2 separate regions of the Homo sapiens genome follow, and region 1 is linked to region 2. Evidence: fine-mapped expression QTL. A gene starts in region 2. The other region holds a variant in brackets. All regions are shown on one strand. Distances are from middle to middle. Region 1 overlaps ATP6V1C2 (ATPase H+ transporting V1 subunit C2). Region 2 holds the start of PDIA6 (protein disulfide isomerase family A member 6).

Region 1 (4,000 bases), 37 kb before region 2:
AAGTGCTAGGATTACACGTGTGAGCCACCACACCCAGCTTGGTACTCATTTTCCTCTGTACCTTTTTGTATGGCCGAGAAGGTTTGTAATTTGAAGAGGTTTTAGAATGCGCGTCAGGCAGCCAGCCTGTTCATCTGACTCCCCACACACAGAACTCCCGGTGCAAGGCCTCTGCCCTGGGGCCCCTGCTGGGGGACGGGGATCTCCCAGGGCTACGAGATGGCAATCGGGATCTAAATTGAAGGGTGCAAGGAACAGGACAATCACAGCCCGAGGTTACAGGGGAGGCAGGGAAGAGGAGCAAGGCTCTGGAGCAGAGGAGCTGGCCCTTGAAGCCAGTGTGCTGGCAGGAGCATTCACTGCTCTTAAAGGCCAAGAGCCGGGGATCCTTGACAGGGCCGGCTGCCTTGGTAGGTGGCCTGGCCTCCCAGACCAGAGCCTCAGGCCCTTCATTGTCACAGGCCACCTGAAAGCCTGCACAGATGACTCTGGAAATACCTGGAGTCTGGCGGCAGCCCCTATGGGCATGGGCTCTGAGAAACAGGAAGGGTGACCCTGCCAGCATGCCAGCATGCTGTGAGATCGTGTCTGGGCCTGAGGGCTCCCACTTCCAGTCTTCTGGCCAATAGGACTCAGAGATGCTTAGACTCCTGGCCCCAAGAATTCCTGAGTTGCTAGAGACAGTGGCCCCAGTGGTCCTGTGTTGAGACTTGCTTGGGAGGCTGTGTCCCATTAGGACTTTGTGATATTGGAAGTGAAATGGACCTTGTAGGATAGTTTCCACCACTCTGCTTTACTATCAGGCAGCACGTCAGAGCCAGGGACACCCTGTGCCAGCTGTGGTGACGGAGGCCCAGGAGGGCTTGGTCTCTCAGGAATTTGATAAGCGGGAGCTAAAGCCCAGGCCCCTACACTCCCTGCACCCCGAGGCCCCCTGAGGCCTTAGCCTGGAGGGGTGTGGAAGGGGCAGGAGGGAAGGGCAGGCAGCCAGGAGTTAGGAAATCTCAGGGAGTGTCCTTGGTTCCCCAGCCCTCAGCTGCTGCCATGGACCCCAGGTGCAGGCCACCAGGCCCGGGGCCTCTGAGCCCCACTCCCGCACAAGGCCTAGCAGTGAGTCCAGCCAACAGATGCTTCTCTCCAACAGACTCATTACTGAGGACAAGGAAGGGGGCCTTTTCACTGTGACTCTGTTTCGAAAAGTGATTGAAGATTTCAAAACCAAGGCCAAAGAAAACAAGTAAGGGTCCTCCAGGTTTGGTTCATCTCCCGCTGCGGGGGGTCTCTGCCCCTCTGGAAAGCTTCTGAGTGAAAACCCATGATTTGCTTGTTTTAAGGTTCACTGTTCGTGAATTTTACTATGATGAGAAGGAAATTGAAAGGGAAAGGGAGGAGATGGCCAGATTGCTGTCTGATAAGAAGCAACAGTATGTGAGTATGTGATTGAGCAGCTCCTCCCGCCCCTACCCGGAGGCCTGGGGATAGAAGAGTCCTCCCAGGTCTCCAGCTCTCCCTCCTCCCTCTCATTGTCCCCAGGCTCCTGGGCTCACACCATGGGGACCGTCTGTTCTCATGGGACGCCTGAGCAGGGTCTGGGGGGAGGGGCGGTGAGCACAAAGGAGCCCAGGCGGTGGAGCTGGGGGCGGGAGCCGGGGGCCCACCCAAGCTGGCGCTTTCCACATGTGTTCTCACTGGTCCTGAGCACCGCCCTGCCAGGAAGGGGTTGCTAGCTCCACAGTATGGAGAAACTGAGGCTCTGAGAGGCAAGCTGGCCAGAGGACCCTGCCAGGCCTTCCTTGGACTGAGCAAGGCACGTGGGCTCCAGGCGGGAGCATCTGTGTGCAGGGTGGGCAGTGCTGGGCCTTGGAGATTGCAGCCGTGAGGTTTCCAGGGCGCCACTAGCCCCTGTATTTACCTCCCGTGTCCTTAGTGCGGAGAGGGTGCTTATCTGGAGACTTCCGACCACAGCCACTCAGAAACCCTTCACGGAGGAGGACAGCGTAGCTCACCAGGGAGCAAAACTAGATGCTC[AC/A]GTTTGAATTGTGAGCAGGAGAGCTTTGGGAAGGTCCCTCCACCGCTCCGGGAAGTGGGCACCTTCCATACTCAGGTTCTCCTGCTGCGATGCTGGGCTAGGCTGGGCAACTTGGAAGGAGCCTGTCTGGGTGGAATGTTTTTGGGACCCTTCTTCCTCATGCCCACCAGGGAGGGTTCCGTGAGCACCTTCCAGTCCAGCCTCTAGTGACAGGGCAGGAGGAATGAGTAGAAAGTTCTTGAGGCCTTTGGGGGAAAGTCACTGTGTGAACACAGCACTGTGAGGACTCCCATGGGGAGGAGCGCCGTGGCCGCGGGCAGGCTGGGAGTGCTCCCAGTGTCCGTGCTGCCAAGTGTGTGCTCCGGGCTCCTGGGGACCTGGCCTGTCTGTCAGCGACCTTTTTGCAGGGACTGGGGATGAGCAGCCACCCCGTCACAAGCGAGCCCAGCCACGGAGCCCCCGTAGTGGGGTTCTCGGAGCCCCTCTGGTCTGGTCTGTTTCCCTTTAGGGAGGAAACAACAGCTGATAATATACAAGTTTATATAGGGGGTTTTTCACCCTCCTCCTCCGAAATAGCACAGGGCGCTCACACACGTGTGTGTGTGTGTGCGCGCGCACGTGCATGTATGAGTGTGTGTGTGGACCTGTGTGTGCACAGCAAGTGAGACACACCTCAGAGCCAGACGCTGCTGGGCTCCGGCTGAGCCTGCGGGGAGGGTGTCGCCTCCTGAGGACGAGGAGCCGAGCTGGAGCTGGGGACCCCCAGCCCTTTGGATGCTCCAGTCTTCAGAGCAGGGCCCACAGACCCAGACACCAGGCAGGAAAGATTTTCCCCAGTGAAAGCTGAGCTCCAAAGTGTTTTCTTCCTTAGGCTCAGCTCACCTGAAACCCTCGCTACCTGGGCACGCCCTGGCTGTTCTCTTCAGCCAGGCTTTTTCCCAGCTCGATTCAGTCCTGGTCCCAACCCCCTGCGCAGTATCTCTGGACGGGGCTAGACCGTGGCAGCCTCCACACCAGGGAGGCCCTGCTGGGGGACAGGTGGCGAAGCAGGGCCTTTGGCACCCACCTGGGCACTGGCCCAGGCCTGCCAGACCCCCGGGGAACAGGGTGACACACAGGAGCCTGCCGCCTGCCACGTGGGGCTCAGGTTGCCAGCTGGCGTATTTTACATGGCGTAGCCTTCGCCCACACCACCCTGGGGGCCCTGCCAGGGTCTCTCTGTGGGCGGGAGGTGGAGGCACTCTCAGCTTGGGTAGTCCCACTGGCCTCCTGAGAATCTGGCCCCCTCTGGCCTATCTAGAAGTGCATGACCAAACGTCTTGCATCCTTTTTGTCACTCATCAACCAGAGGGACAGACCAGGCCCTGGGGTTTGAGTGTACTTTGAGAGCAGAGTGGGATGTCCCTGTGTTTCCCACCTGTTTGCAGAGACAGAATGGGAAAGGGTGAGTGTCCTAACTGCATGCCCAACTCATCTCCTGCACTCTGCATGCCGAGGTGCCCCCCGAATGCCAGGAAGGCATCTGTGGCTGGGCATGGTGGAGCCACCTTGACAGAGCGCAGAGAGCCGTTTCCACTAACGCCTCCCGGTGCTGTCCTGGTCGGCCTGCGATGGGGGTCCTGGCTGAGCCCAAGCAAGGGGAGGGAGCTCAGGGCTGACCCCTCTGCCAGAGATCGGCTCTGTGCTTGGAATATGGAACCCAAAGACCTTAACACTGCCCTTCTCTCTGCCTTCACCACTCCAGGAGCCCGGTGGGCACCTACCACATCTCTAGTCTAGCCAGCACGCGAGTCCCGAGGGTGGGCCTGAATTCCTGAGCTTGCTCTCGCGTGCCTTTCAGGCGATGAGAATGATTTATTTGTTTGTGATGCATGTTTGCTGAAAGATTAATAAATCATTTCTGTGCCTTTAGCAAACTTCCTGTGTTGCTCTTAAAAAGGGATCATCCACCTTCCCGGACCACAAGGTTAA
Region 2 (4,508 bases):
CATTCCACTCAGTGATAATGAACACCAATGGGAAATTGGACCATCCGAGTGAGTGTCTAGAATCTCTGTGAGCAGATGGCTCTGCCATCTGTGGTTTTCCATTCCTCCATGGCAGTTAAGGATGCTATAAATTCACATCAGTAACATCTCTGTCCCACATCTGCTAGGAGGAGTCTACAGTCCCAGAGCAGTCATCTAGAAACCATGAGGTTTCCCAGAAAGGCTGCCATTTATTAAAATGAGTTAATTAATAGACTCACGGACTCTTTCAGGGTCTAGTCTGAATTCACTCACAGGAAACTAAACAGACTAAACTCTTTTCCCCTCATCTACTCTCTCCACAGTAATATGGCAAATATTTACATCTCTTTAAAACATGTACTAGCTGGGCCAGGTGACTGACACTTGTAATCCCAGGATTTTGGGAGGTTGAGGAAGGAGGATCACTCGAGGCCAGGAGTTTGAGACCAACCTGAGCAATACAATGAGACCCTGACTCTACAAAAAATTTAAAAATTAGCCAGGTGTGGTGGCATGTGCCTGGATCCCTTGAGACCAGGAGTTCCAGGCTGCAGTGAACTATGATGGAAACCCTGCACTCCAGCCTAGGAGACAGAGCAAGACCGTGTCTCAAAAAACAGAAAGACATGTACTAACTCATTAATCCTCAGGACAACCCTAAGGGAGTACTATTATCAGTCCCTAAAATGGTGAACACCGTTGAAAAGGCACTGGCACAGAGTGGTTAAGTAACTTGCTCCAAGTCACAGAGCCAGTAAATAGGGGGAAGGTGGTCTGAGGCCAGAGCCGAGGTTAAGGACTGTCAGAGCCAAGGCTGTGACCAAGGCGAGCCCGGCAAGGACAGGACCCTCGGCCTCGCCCACTAAGAAGCAGACATTTACAGAATTCCTAAGACGCCGCGTTCCATTTCGTTTTTAAGGAGTCCGATCACATGCGAAGCGCCCCTGCGTCTTAAGCCCAGCTTTTGGAAGGCACTGTCCCTTTCTAAGGGAACTATGGGTCCTTATTTCAGGACTGAGATTTAACATTTCAGTTTTTCGTTTCTGAGACAGAGTTTCACTCTTGTTGCCCAGGCTGGAGTGGCGCGATCTCGGCTCACTGCAACCTCCGCCTCCTGGGGGTTCAGGAGATTCTCCTGCCTCAGCCTTCTGAGTAGCTGGGATCACTGGCGCGCGACACCACGCCCGACTAATTTTGTATTTTTAGTAGAGACGGGGTTTCGCCATGTTGGTCAGGCTGGTCTCGAACTCCTGACCTCAGATGATCCACCCGCTTCGGCCTTCCAAAGTGCTGGGATTACAGGTGTGAGCCACCGCGCCCGGCTTAACATTTCAGTTTTTAAAAGTAGGAGCTGCATAAAGCAGGTGGCAGAAACAAGCAGCAGTGCAGGACGCCCGCCAACCTCCGTCCCCACGCACGAGTTCGAGAAGAGCCCGGAACAAGCTCCCCTGCGACTCTCCGGGAATACAGACCCCCTCCCCGGGATCCGGCCGGGGCTGGGCTCCGCGGCTCTCCCGCCCGGCCCTGGACCCCGCGCCCGGCTCCAGCGCACGAGGCTCCCGCCCCCCGCGGCTGCGGAAGCCCCTCCCCACGGGCGCCCGAGTCTCCCGCGCACCCGCACCTCCGCCGGGGCAACCTAGCAGCTCCTCCGGACGCCGAGGCCCGCGCCTCCCGCCCGCCAGGCCCACTTCCGGCCGCCTGCGGCCGCGGCCCGCCGGGGAACGGCCTAGAGATTCGAAACCTTTCAGGCCGACCCCAGCTCGCCCGCCTCCCTCCGCTGGCCCGCACCTACCGAGCACCAGGAGAGCCATGCCGAGCGCCGGGCTACGTGCAGTCCCCACCGCCGCCGCCGCTTCAGCCCTGCAGCGTGCCGCACGCCGCGCCCCCGCGCCCACGTCCCGCCCCAGGCCAGTCCGGTGGTCCGAGGGGCGGCCGCGCGGGGGCGGGCCGGAAGGCGCTCGCCAAGCCGTGGCTGCGGCTCATTGGTCCGGGCGGACATCGCTCACTCACATATCCAATGGGAGGCGGCCGGGTAGAGGTTACCGGTTTGGTTTTTTTTCACGGGGGCGGTGGCGAGCAGCGGAAGGCGGGGCCTGCTGGGGGCGGGGCTGGCAGTCTCGGCTCGCACCGCCTCAGCTCCTCCGGGCCCTCTCGGGGTGCTGCTCGGAGGGGAGTCCAGTACTGGGCGTTTTTACCTTAGTTCCTTATTCTGCACCCCCCCACCCCGCCTCCTCCTTGCCTGTGTGCGCCCCCACCCTCTTTATCCCGGGGGAGCGTGACTCGGCCTCAGGGCACCCACGGTCCTGGGAGCTGACAGGGAATTCCTCTTGTGCCCGACGAATATTCCGTGGACACACATTTGCTCCGCACGCGCTGTCTGCAATGTAATTCGACAAGTTTCTATTTTGTTGAATTACTTTTGAAAGTTCTTCCGTCCAGGGCGCATGGCTCTGCAGAGCCTTCTCCTCCTTCTCTGGAGAACCCCAGGGACTTAAGCGGTAGCCTCCTCGCTGACAGGGTCTCCACTTTGTCCTGGGGGGCGAGGGGGCTGGCAATGCGCTCACGTGGGTGTGTGCTTTGTAAAATATGCAAAAGTGAAAAAAAATATGTTTGTGGGGCAGGCTGGCGAGCAGTGGCATGATACAGTTCACTGCAGCCTTGAACTCCTGGGCTGCAGTGAGCCTCCTGCCTCGGCCTCCCAAAGTGCTGGGATCACAGGCATGGGCCACCACGCCCGGCAAAAGTAAAAATTTTTTTGCTTTTTTTTGAGATGGAGTTTTGCCCTTGTTGCCCAGGCTGGAGTGCAAAGGCGGGGTCTTGGCTCACTGCAACCTCTGCCTCCCGGGTTCAAGCGATTCTCTTGCCTCAGCTTCCCGAGAAGCTGGGATGACAGGTGCATGTCACCACGCCCGGCTAATTTTTGTATTTTTAGCAGAGACAGGGTTTCTCTTGCCTCAGCTTCCCGAGAAGCTGGGATGACAGGTGCATGTCACCACGCCCGGCTAATTTTTGTATTTTTAGCAGAGACAGGGTTTCTCCATATTGGCCAGGCTGGTCTCGAACTCCCGACCTCAGGTGATCCGCCTGCTTCGGCCTCCCAAAATGCTAGGATTACAGTTGTGAGCCACCACGCCCGACCTAAAAGTAAAATCTTTCAAGCACAAGTTAAGACCACTGTATCTTTCCGCCTTGATTCTCCCTCCTATGTTTGGAGTGGACTCGGACATTTTGTTTTTGTATTAGTAATTTCTCCATATTGTAGTGTGTAAGGCATAAGTATTCTTAGGCAGGGGTCCAGGAGTGGTGGGGGCCGGCTGGTGGGCTTCCTGGAGGAAGTGGCACTAGAGCTGCGTTTGGAAGATTTTTCAGGCAAACTGAACTCAGAGGCACAGCAGCCCTCTGAAGTCACGGGGGCCTCTCCTGGAAGCCACATGCCAGCATTGATTTTCCCCAGGGAGGCTGCTTGTCCCGGGACAGAAATCCTCAGCTTGGTACCCCGGGCAGCTCCTCCTGAATGTGAAGGTGCGTGGGAAGCCCAACCGGTGATCGCAGGGCTGTTTGGGATTCACAGCAAAGGGCAGTGGACTGCGAGCCTGTTCCTCCAGGCCTGTCTGCTTTCCCTGAAGGGCGCCTGAGGGGCAATGAATGCTGTTTGTTTTTCTGACCCCTTTCCTGCATTTGACACATTTCCCCCCTTAAATTTGCTGCTGTTGCTGACTGGATTACAGCGAAGTCCTTCCTTTTCCTCTCAGCCTGGAAAGTCATGCTTTTCCTCCCTGGATGGAGGAATTTAATTCTCTTACCAGAAGAGGGCCCCTTCATTTGTCTTTACATTAAGACAGTTAACTTTGTCCCCATGGGCCACAGACATCACAGCTTCCACAACGCACTCACGATCGAGTTTGTTTTCTCAGGGTTGTGAGTTGATCGCAGCCTCTCCAGGCCTGCTGTGTTTGGGTAGCAATCCTGCTTGGAACAGAACCCTCGAACTGCGGTGGCCCACACTGCCAGTGCCCTTTGTGTGCTGTGTGGTCTCTGTCCCAGTTGGCCTCAGGGCTGATCCTCGTGGAGAAAACAGAGGCCAGATCATAACTCCCTGCTAAATATCCCAGGTCACTGGCTGCTCTGGACCGTGGGCTGAATGCGCAGCTGCACGAGGCACACACCCCTGTGAAGCCCACTGTACAGGCACAGGCTTCGGGAAATGCACAGGCTTCTGGAAATGCACAGGCTTCTGGAAATGCACAGGCTTCTGGAAATGCACAGGCCTCCGGAAATGCACAGGCTTCTGGAAATGCACAGCCTTCTGGAAATGCACAGGCTTCCGGAAATGCACCAGGGCGTGTTGCTCATTTCTTTTTTCATTAAAACCAAATGCACATTAACAACCTAATTATACGAGCAACTGTCTCAGGCACAGTCACTGGCCCCAGGGAGCACACAGCCAACAGAGAGGCACGTTACACTGCGGTATTCCTCATGCTCTG

What was found. PIP is the estimated chance that this variant, and not a neighbour inherited with it, causes the effect. A credible set is the group of variants that fine-mapping cannot tell apart.
Region 1: its variant is the best candidate, but not a certain one, in a credible set for the expression of PDIA6 in whole blood (TOPMed, PIP 0.84).

Annotation. Positions count from the first base shown.
Region 1 is chr2:10,773,644-10,777,643 of GRCh38, forward strand. It overlaps ATP6V1C2 (ATPase H+ transporting V1 subunit C2), which reads left to right. Exons shown (of 14, transcript NM_001039362.2): 9 at 1,145-1,237; 10 at 1,335-1,428; 11 at 3,942-4,000. Among named protein-coding and RNA genes, the nearest start is that of PDIA6, 37 kb to the right of the region's middle. The variant AC/A (reference allele first, on the strand shown) is at 2,029.
Region 2 is chr2:10,810,865-10,815,372 of GRCh38, forward strand. It overlaps PDIA6 (protein disulfide isomerase family A member 6), which reads right to left and starts at 1,921. Exons shown (of 13, transcript NM_005742.4): 1 at 1,814-1,921. The coding sequence starts at 1,832. RefSeq lists an enhancer at 924-983 and a silencer at 1,474-2,223.